2 separate regions of the Homo sapiens genome follow, and region 2 is linked to region 1. A link means that fine-mapping ties the variant in region 1 to the expression of a gene that starts in the linked region. Tissue or cell type: whole blood. Region 1 holds a variant in brackets; the other region holds the start of a gene. Each region is shown on its reference strand, or each on the opposite one. Region 1 has its middle 43 kb from the start of PLAGL1. Region 2 holds the start of CERS2 (ceramide synthase 2).

What was found. PIP is the estimated chance that this variant, and not a neighbour inherited with it, causes the effect. A credible set is the group of variants that fine-mapping cannot tell apart.
Region 2: it holds the start of CERS2, and the variant in region 1 is the best candidate, but not a certain one, in a credible set for the expression of CERS2 in whole blood (TOPMed, PIP 0.70).

The regions. Positions count from the first base shown.
Region 1 is chr6:144,049,063-144,054,300 of GRCh38, reverse strand. It overlaps a transcript of PLAGL1 not described here. Among named protein-coding and RNA genes, the nearest start is that of PLAGL1, 43 kb to the right of the region's middle. The variant G/A (reference allele first, on the strand shown) is at 3,258.
Region 2 is chr1:150,972,143-150,977,380 of GRCh38, reverse strand. CERS2 (ceramide synthase 2) reads left to right here and starts at 2,546. Exons shown (of 11, transcript NM_022075.5): 1 at 2,546-2,762. It also overlaps a transcript of ANXA9 not described here. RefSeq lists enhancers at 1-396, 3,295-3,439, 3,397-4,328, cis regulatory regions at 1-536, 3,367 and silencers at 2,242-2,681, 2,702-3,191.

The DNA of each region.
Region 1 (5,238 bases):
ACGACACACACATTGTTTTTCTTGCATAAGTAAAAAGTAAGTTTGGAAAGATGTATACTAAACTTAATCTTGGCTAACTCTGAAGAATGGACTGTTGTAGGGGCTGGTAAACTTTCAGTTTTTACTTTATATACTTTTGTATTGTTTGTTAAGTGAGCATATATTTTATAATTTCATGCATGTGGTATGTTATAGAATGAGACTTTATAATTATAAAGCACTTTATTGGATTTATAGGTACAATTGTCATTTGACATAAGTAAGTTAAGACCTAGAGTTAAATAGTATCATTTGTTAGACCATATAGAGAAATGAATATCCCTTTCCTGATGGATTTTGAAGTTGATGGTGTTCTTCTTGGTATGTACTTTGACAGGATTCATGTGATAATTAATATAATCAAAGACTTTCCTGCAGCTTCTTAAAGAGGCTGAGCCCAGAGATGACAAATAAGTTTCATCATATTTTATTGTAGCTGCCTAGAAGGATGTGCTGATAAGGATCTCGAGGTTATAACTATGTTCACTGGGCAAGAATACCGTGATCAGTAACTGGCCTGACATAGTTACTAGAGGATGAGGAAGACAGCTGATCATTTTCCATGTATTTGCCATCCCCGAAGCCTAAACTTTTAGGTGGTAAGTTTCTTTATGAAGGTAGTATTTTCCTTTTTATCCAAATAAGTCCTGTAGGGACTTATTGTCTGTACTGTCCATCATATTTAATCAAATAGTATTTTGCACAGTTATTGAATAGTTTCATGATAAATCATGTTAAGATGGCAAGCACTGGGACCTTTTGTATCCCTCATAGGTGGTAGCAAGATGTTATACTTGAATGAACTACTCAAGAATTAATGACTAATTAGGCCGGGTGTGGTGGCTCACGCCTGTAACACCAGCAATTTGGGAGGCCATCGTGGCTGATCACCTGAGGTCAGGAGTTTCAGACCAGCCTGGCTAACATGGTGAAACCCTGTCTCCACTAAAAATACAAAAATTAGCTCGGCATGATGGTGCATGCCTGTAATCCCAGGTACTCAGGAGACTGAGGCAGGAGAATTGCTTGAACCCGGGAGGCAGAGGTTGCAGTAAGCCAAAATTGCGCCACTGCACTCCAGCCTGGGCGACAGAGTGAGACCATTTCAAAAAAAATGATTGATTGATTGATTTTGGCAATGTGTGGTTGTAGCTGATAAGGATGACCCAATATGGTTGAGCATCAGTTAAAATAAATAATTTCATCCTTGTTTATCAAAGCATTTACAAGTATTGGTGCTAACCTGAAAAAATATAGTATTGTGAGTATAATTTTTTTCTGTGACCCCCTTCAGTCTTCTCAGTTCATGATACCAAGAAAGAATTAAATGGCTTAAATGTTGAAACAAGGAGTAGTTCAATTTTTTACATTTTTGTTCTAAGAGGGCACCAATGTTGCATATATCCTGGATGTGGAGAATTTAAACACATTGTTGATAGAATTTCTTTTCATAAGAACTAGTTGTTGGAAAAGGAAAAATACAGAAAATCAGTCCCTCCACAACCCCCTCCCCCACATTTTTTTTTCTTTTTTTGGTTTAGTAGTTGTGGAAAGAGAAAAGTGCTTAATCAGCATAGTGTGAAGCTGCCAGCATATTGAGTCCCCAATTATTTCAGACTGAATTTTTAAAAATCAAGCATTTGTTTGACATCCTGTTTGCAACCATATGAACAAGATATATATTCATCCATTCATTTGTTTAACAACATCTATTAGATGTCAAGCACTGTTTAGGCTCTGGGAGTAGAGTGCTAGACAGGAGATAGAGTCCCTGCCCCATGTTCATTATGGATGAGAAAAATTAGATCTCTACAAAATGTCTTGCCCAAAGTGGTAGAACTGGGGCTTGAACTAAGTATCCACATTTTAAATTCAGTGCTCTATTCTTTGTATCACACTGCCTCACATAATTCTAAAGGACCCTTATTGAATATCAGCAAAAATGTTCTATCTGCCTTGGTTGATTGATTGATTGATTGATTGACTGATTGCTCCTTCTTTGGTGGTAGTCTTTTCCTTGCCATGTGCTCTTTTCCTTGCCATATTGAATGAAGGACATATATACTATCTGTCAGGATCACTTACCTTCTTTTCTGATCTTAGGACAAATATTTATTTTTCTGAATAGCAACCTAGGATCATGTCATTAAAAATAGTATCTGAGTAAAGTAATTGGAGCAGTATTTTTCAAACTCTTAAGTTTTAATTTGGTAAAATGAAACCAGTAAAAATAAAAATAAATCTCACAGTGCATCATGAGTGGTAAGGTAAATATTGTTAGATTAAACTGTAATTCATGAATATATGTGATATGGTTTGGCTGTGTCCCCACCCAAATTTCATCTTGAATTGTAACTCCCACAATTCCCACATGTCGTGGGAGTAACCCAGTGGGAGGTGATTAAATTATGGGGGAGGGTCTTTCCTGCACTATTCTCATGATAGTGAATGAGTCTCATGAGATCTGATGGTTTTAAAAATGAGAGTTCCCCTGCACAAGCTCTCTCTTGCCTGCCACCATTCATGTAAGACATGACTTGCTCCTCCTCGTTTTCTACCATGATTGTGAGGCCTCTCCAGCAATGTGGAACTGTAAGTCCATTAAACCTCTCTTTCTTCCCAGTCTTATCTATCATAGTTATGATATGTCTTTATCAGCAGCATGAAAGAGGACTAATACAATATGTTTGAACTTGGTTGCAACATGAAATGTTTTTCTTAGTGTTGGTTTGGTAAAAACATTTGAAACATATTGGTTTAAAGGGCATCCAATAAGATATCATTTGTGAAAAAAACAGGAGTAAATGATTGTCCTTAGTTGTTATTTGATTGTATGTGTGTGCCTCATGCATGGTGGGTGTTGTTTACCAAAAGGATTCAAAGCAATAAAGTAGAATTAGTGTGAGGAAAGTGCTAGGAGAAGCTGTTTGGCATCTAAATATATGCCTGAATGGATCTTTTTCCATTAAGCACATACATGTTGCAGTTATTGGTTTCCCTGTGTCCTGCACTTTTGCTTATTGTGGTTTCCTGTATTGAGTGGATTCATTGTTTTCTGAAATTTATTGTAATTTAATTGTGTGATATATAGAAAACTTAGAGAAAGTACGTAATTGAGGTGATTTCCTAGACATTATCTGATAGTCTGTAGGTGTCTAGATTTTAAGTTGTTACATATTACAAACTGTTAAAGCTGATTTAGAGTTGTTACATATCAT[G/A]TACTGACTTATTTTAAAGCTGATTTAAGATTTTATTTTTACATTTAATTTATAAATGTTTGTCAGCAGATTTTGCCTGAAGATATTATTGGTAATAAAAGAGTAACAGATACAGTTCCCTAAGGTTTTTGGCTTTGTTTTGTTTTTGAGACAGGGTCTTGCTTTGTCACCTAGGTTGGAGTGTGGTGGCACAATTGTAGTTTACTACAGCCTGAAACTCACAGACTCAAGTGATCCTGCCACCTCAGCCTCTTGAGTAGCTGGGACAACAGGCATGTGCCACCACACCTGATTTACTTAAAAAAAAATTTTTTTTTGTAGAAACAGGGTCTCACTATGTTTCCCAGGTTGGTCTCAAACTCCTGGCCTCAAGTGATCCTCCTGCCTTGGCCTCCCAAAGTGCTGGGATTATAGACATGAGCCACTGCACCTGACACAGAGATGTGTATAAATATCATGTGCTTATTCTTTGCAAGGCAGGAATAAGATATTTATTCCCTAGAATAAGCCTATAATGTAATAATAGAGACATAAACATAGAGAAGAGACAGCCTTAAAAGAGTGTAGAAGAATCTTTCTCTCCTCAGACAGAAGAAAAGAGAATAACATATGAGCGATAAAAATGCTCTGAGAAGGGATTTGGGCAGGAAAGCCGAGCAAGCCCTGGTTGCTGGTATCAAAGACCTTCTGGCAGCATTGTGTTATGGACATATTTCACTTAGTTGAGTTCAGCAGTCGATTTCAAGGGGAAATAAAAGAACAATAATTAGCACAGGAGGTTGCCCCTAGCATGTCACACAGTGGGTGTATTGTCCTGGAATGAGTACGTTCTGGGCAATGTGAATCTCTTGTTCCCTTAGGTGGTCTCAATTTCCCTCAAAACTCACCAGACACATAAATATTTTGAGTTAAACTCAAAGTAAGCACCCTTACTTGCTTTCATGAAAAATAACTACTCTCCTACTTCATTCAAAAAGCCGAGGCTCTAAATTGTGAATGGCTTCCCTCCCATTCACCCTTTCCCCCTTCTGCCATTTTTCGCATCTGCACCTTTCCTCCCCTCCACTTCTCCAGCTTCGAAGGATCTTAGTCCAGACCTGTCTTGTGCACTGTTGGACCCTGCTTACTCAATTTATCCTCTCCCTCATGATCAGAAGCTACGCAGCACGAAGGATAAAAACCTTGGCTTTGGAGCCACCTTCTAAGTATGTCACACAGTTATCAAACCTCCATGTGTCTCAGTTTTTTATTTGAAAAATGGGACTAGTAATAGAGTGACATAATTAGGCTTTGTGTCCCCACCCAAATCTCATCTTGAAATTGTAATCCCCATAATCCCTACATGTCTAGGGAGAGACCTGGTGGGAGGCAATTAGATCATGGGGCCAGTTTTCCCCATGCTGTTCTCATGATAGTGAGTGAGTTCTCACAAGATCTGATGGTTTCATAAGAGGCTCTTTCCCCTTCACTCCTCACTCTTCCCCTGCTTCCATGTGAGAAGGTCCAAGCTTGCTTCCTCTTTGCTTTCCACCATGATTGTAAGTTTCCTGATGCCTCCCTAGCCGTGCAGAACTGTGAGTCAATTACATCTCTTTCCTTTATAAATTACCCATCTGAGGTATTTCTTTATAGCAAAGTGAAAACTGACTAACACAGTTAATTGATACCAAGGTAGTGGGGTATTGCTATAAAGATACTTAAAAATGAGGAAGCAACTTTGGAACTGGGTAACAGGCAGAGGTTGGAACAGATTGGAGGGCCCAGAAGAGGACAGGAAGTTGTGGGAAAGTTTGGAACTTTCTAGAGACTTGTTGAATGGTTTTGACCAAAATGCAGTTAATGATGTGGACAATGAAGTACAGGCTGAGGTGGTCTCAGATGAAGATAAGGAAAGTCTTGGGAACTGGAGCAAAGGTCACATTTGCTATGCTTTAGCAAAGAGACTGGTGGCATTTTGCCCCTGCCCTAGAGATCTGTGCAA
Region 2 (5,238 bases), not on the chromosome of region 1:
TGCTGACAAAGCTGGTCGCATCATCCCGGTGCTGGCTGAGGCCCAGTTTCCCCTTCTCCATCCACCTTCTCTTTTGTCTCCTGGGGGAGGAATATACCCTCTTATCTTTATTTCTCAGGCCCTGGTTATCCAACTTCTGCCCCAGAACTTCCCCTCCCCACTGCTATCTTAAAAAAAAGAAAAAAAAGTTAACCAGTCTTCAGTTCTCCTGAGGAAGCATTTGAAAAGTCTGGTAGGGACTACAGGAAAGCCTGGCACTTAGGAAAACCACAAGAAAGGGATTCAGAACTAAAAGAAGGAAGATGAATAGGACGGAGGTGTGGAGAGTGTTAGAGACCCGAAGGTGAGCTGCGGCCCAAAGAGCCCTGGAACTATGCTGGAAAAAAGGTGTGTAGGTGTGTAGCAGATAAGGACTCTGGGGAGAGCACTGAAGAAAGGAAGAGGGAACTTTGGAATTAGAAGGCTGAAGGAGGAGAGTTCCAAGGGGGTAGAAAGAGACAATTGGGATGCAAGGTGGCTCATGCTTGTAATCCCAGCACTTTGAAAGGCCAAGGCGGGTGGATGGTTTGAGCTCAGGAGTTCACGACCAGCGTGAGCGACATGGTGAAATCTCAAAAATACAAAAATTAGCCGGGCATGGTGGCGTCGCCTGTGGTCCCTGCTACTTGGGAGGCTGAGGTGGAGGATAGCTTGAGCCTGGAAGGTCGAGGCTGCAGTGACAGAGTGAGACCTCCTCTCCAAAGGAAAAAAAAAAAAAAGAAAGGAAAGAAAGATACAATGGAAGATATGCTAATAAGGGAGGGAGGAGAAAAACACAGCTGGAGGGGTTGCTGGAAACTGGGAGATCAGGCAGGCCTGGGGCTTAGAAAAGCCTAGAGAAACCCTGGGAGCTGGTTAGGGGCCACCACTCTCATCTTTCCCATGGTGTGTCAGGGCTGCGGGTCCCCCTGAAAAGAGAGGCAGAACAAACAGTTGGGTCGGACAGCCTCTACCTCCTTACCCTCCAGAAAGGGCCTGAGATGAGGGATGGGCCCTCCAACTGGATTAGTGGGGGTTGCACTCCTTCCTACGAGTACTTGACCAGATAAACGGGGAAACAAGCTACTGTCAGAGGCTCTGATTGCAACAGCATAAAAAAGGCAATACTTCATCTAGGTGAGAAATTTGACAAAAGTACCTCTCCATGGAGTAAGCTGCAGCTCTCCCTGTATAGGAGCCCTCAAATACATCTTAGTCACCACTCGTTCACGTTAGGAGTTAAGACCAGCTTTCTAGGAAAACCATGTTGCATCTTCCAACAGTAATTACTTCTGAAACAGTAATTTTACCACACGACTCAAGGGGAAAACTTTTTTTTTTTAAATTTATAAAGGAGTTGGGGGTCTCGCTATGTTGACCAGGCTGGTCTTGAACTCTGACCTCAAGTGATCTGCCCACCTCGGCCACCCAAAGTGCTGAGATTACAGGCATAAGCCACGGCGCCAGGCCAAGGGGAGAACACTTTTTTTTTTTTTTTCCTGAGACGGAGTCTCACTCTGTCGCCCAGGCTGGAGTGCAGTGGCGAGATCTCGGCTCACTGCAAACTCCACCTCCAGGGTTCAAGCGATTCTCGTGGCTCAGCCTCCCGAGTAGCTGGGATTACAAGCGCGAGCCACCGTGCCCGGCTAATTTTTGTATTTTTAGTAGAGACAGGGTTTAACCATGTTGGCCAGGGTGGTCTCGAACGCCTGACCTCAGGTGATCTGCCCGCCTCGGCCTCCCAAAGTGCTGGGATTACAGGCGTGAGCCACCGCGCCCGGCCGGAAAACACTTTTTAACACGAAATCGAATACGGATAAACGTGGTGTCATTTGAAAACTCATACATTTTACAAAACAAAAGTTGGGGTGGCTCTTTCAGACAGGGCCGCCGGGTGTGCGCAAGTTCGGGTTTGCTCTTCCTTGCCACGGGGGTAGGTCCCGTAGCACCTAGGTGGAAAGGCCGCGGCTTTTACGGCGGGGTAGGCGAGGGTCGCCCGAGTGATCGCAGGCTCCGACTGGGTCTCGAGGGTCGGCTGCTTCGGTCTGCCCTGGAGAGGTTTTCAGCTTCGGCGCGAGGCACTTGGGCAGGATCCCCGGGCTGCACCCTCCTCCGCCCGCGCCCCGTGGGGCTGGAAGTGGGAATGTGCCCACCCTGGCGGGGACCGGGGGCCGCACAGCAGTTGGGGGTGGGTGGGGGTGGGTAGGAGTAAGGGGACAGGGACACCGCCGCTCGGAGCCCGGGACCCCGCGGCATCCAGTGCGTCTGTGTCGGTCCCAGTGGGAGACCTCCCACCCCGAAAAGAGACCGAAGTGGCGGAAGGAGCCCGCACCCGCCTCCCCAGGTCGGCGGTTTCTCTAGCGCAAGGTGACGGGCGTGGACGCGGCTGTGGGGCCGGGAGCGGAGGGTTGGGGTCTGGCCTCCCGCGCCGGGGCGAAGGGGCAGCCGCAGCGCAGAGGCCCGCCCCGCCCTCCCCTCCCGTCACGCCCAGCCTCCCGGCCCTTGGGCTGCTCGCGGCCTTTTTTTCCCGGCTGGGCTCGGGCTCAGCTCGACTGGGCTCGGCGGGCGGCGGCGGCGGCGCCGGCGGCTGGCGGAGGAGGGAGGGCGAGGGCGGGCGCGGGCCGGCGGGCGGGCGGAAGAGGGAGGAGAGGCGCGGGGAGCCAGGCCTCGGGGCCTCGGAGCAACCACCCGAGCAGACGGAGTACACGGAGCAGCGGCCCCGGCCCCGCCAACGCTGCCGCCGGGTGAGTCGGGGCCCCCGCCCGGCGCCCGAGCCCCGCGCGGGGGTGGGAAGGGGCTGCGGAAAAGTTGGGAGCCCCGGGTGCCGCTTTGTCGCGGGGCCGCGGAGGGGTCGGGCTGGGAAGGCCGCGGGGCCGGGGCGAGGAGGGAGGCGGCGCTGGCGGGGGGCGCTGCGGGCGCTCATGGCGGCGGCCGCCGGGTAAGGCGGGCGCAGCGCCTCAAGGGAGCGGCCGGGGCCGGCGGGCCTGGCGCCGCGGTGTCCGCGGCAGCGCCGCCCTGAGCCGGAGAAGCTTTCCCGGGCAACAGGTAGGGCGGAAGGTGGGGACGCGGGGGCTGCGGGCGACGGGGCCGAGCCGTGGGCTTCCCTTTGTTGGGGAGTGGAGGAGCTTGGTGACCATTGGCGCGAGAGCCTCCACCCTGGCAGCGGCCCGCGGGGTTGCCCTGGCCTGGACGCGTCCTGTGGCTTGGGTGGGAGGAGAGGGGAGGGCCCTGCCCCGTTTTCTTCCTACCGGCCCACCGTGCCCACCTCGCAGGCGAGGTCAGAGCTTCCATGTGCTTAACGGGAAACAGGAAGGAGCGGCCCGGAGCGCCTGCCCCGGCCCGGTAGGGCTAAGGCATACCGTTATGAGGTGTGGATGGCTGGCAAGGGAGCTCCTGGTGGAACTGGCTTTCTGGGCCGTAGCTTGTTAATCACTAGAGGCCCGTGGCAAGTGGGTTGACTGCAGGTGTAGAGCACTCATCTTTAGCCTGCAGTTGGAGTCTCTCCCTCCCTAAGCCTAGCTCCTGGCATCAAAACCTGGTTTCAGTCACCTGAGTTGCCAGGCCCAGGTTCAGGGGGTTCTGAGGATCGTGGCGAATGCAGTGAGCCCCTGTTCCTGGAGAAGTGAGTCCGAGCAGGCCTCCAGCAGGCAGTCACCCCCATATCTGTGCTGGGGCAGGGGTGGGTGGCGGTTGCTGCCGCATACCGGAGTCGGGATGACCGCACCGGGGTGTGAGTGGCTGCACATGTAAAGGGGCTCCTAAGGGTAAGGACTTGCCTGCAGTCCTGTCCCTGAGGACCTGGCGCTGACCATACCGTGATCTGCACAGTCTGTTCCAGAGAGGGATCCTTTTCTCCCCTGGTCCCCCACTTCCCTCACTGGGGCCTCTGGCCAGATTTTCCCCTGGGAGGAAGGGCCTCCTTTTACCCCTGTCACTGGCCATAGGCTGGCTGATCCCTCACTGTGTCCTTCAACACCGCCCCAGCTGTCTCTCAAACCCACCGGCGTCTCCCTGCCCCTGGGGCCATAGTCTCATGCAGTGTTTTGGTCCGTGGAGGCCTTTGGTGGGACTTTGCAGACAAGCTGTAGGCCAGATGAGGCTGAGGACTACTGTTCTGACTGCCTCTCACCCACCTCTTTTTTACAATCTGGCTTATTTTGAGGCCCATCCTGCAGCCTGGAGGGATAACACACCTCTCATTGGCTCCATCCATGGCTTGTAGACTTCTAGTACATGACCTGCTTCTGTTGCCTGAAAGTTTTCAACAAGGAAGACTATTCAGGACTTCTTCAGTGGAAGCAGGGAGCCGGTGGGACCTTTGTCACTCCTCCCTTGTCAACAACTCCTTTCTATTTTCCTCAGTTATTCTTCCAAACTATGAGAGCCAGTCAGACTGACCACCTGGAGTCTGAGAGAATTCCTTCCTCTCAGGCCGAAACTTCTGCCTTCTCAGCCGTTTGGATCTACAAACTCCCATGGGGATCCTCTGCTCCTTTCATCCACCTAGAGGGGTCTTGTGGGGGTGTCAGTCAGAGTTGGGGCAAAGGTTGGGGCTGGACAGAGTCCTGCTCAAGTTCCTGCTAATCTAATGCCAGTTAAATCCCTGCTCTTCTGGCCCCTCTCCAGCCTGTGCCTCAGAAAGTGGCATCTGTGCCTCCAAGGCAGGTGTGTGTGAGAGAGAGCGTAGACAGATACCATGTCTCTTCATGTGTATGGGGGAGTGAAGTCTGGGTGGAAAAGTGTTTCTAGATGTGATTTTCTCCATAAGAAGTCAAGTAACTGCCCTGAAGGCCCAGGGGGCCTGGAAAAACAGGGTTGTCTCCTTACCGTGTGTACACTTCAGCTTTTCTTGCCCCAGCCTCTTGTTTATGGGGTCTTGCTTGGATCTGTGTGCTGGTGCTAAGAGGCCTCCCCAGTACTGCCACAGGGACCCAACTCTTTGGTTCTGTGGGGATGTGTAAGTGAGGCCGGCCAGGCCCCAGCTGTCCTCCCCTCTCTTCATGTTGAGTCAGAGGTCCTGACCCTGCTGAATCTGGGGCCTCCCTGCTGGGGAGATGGGGGTAGTGCCTCTCTGCTAATGGAGGTGCAGGACCACCAGGGAGGGCTGTGGTCATGGGAAGCCTGCAACCTCAGTGTAAAAGCCCCCATTAATCTGCATTTCCCAAGTCTTCCACTCTCCCTGCTTGGAGTGGAAGAGGACAGGCGCTATCTCATCTTGGG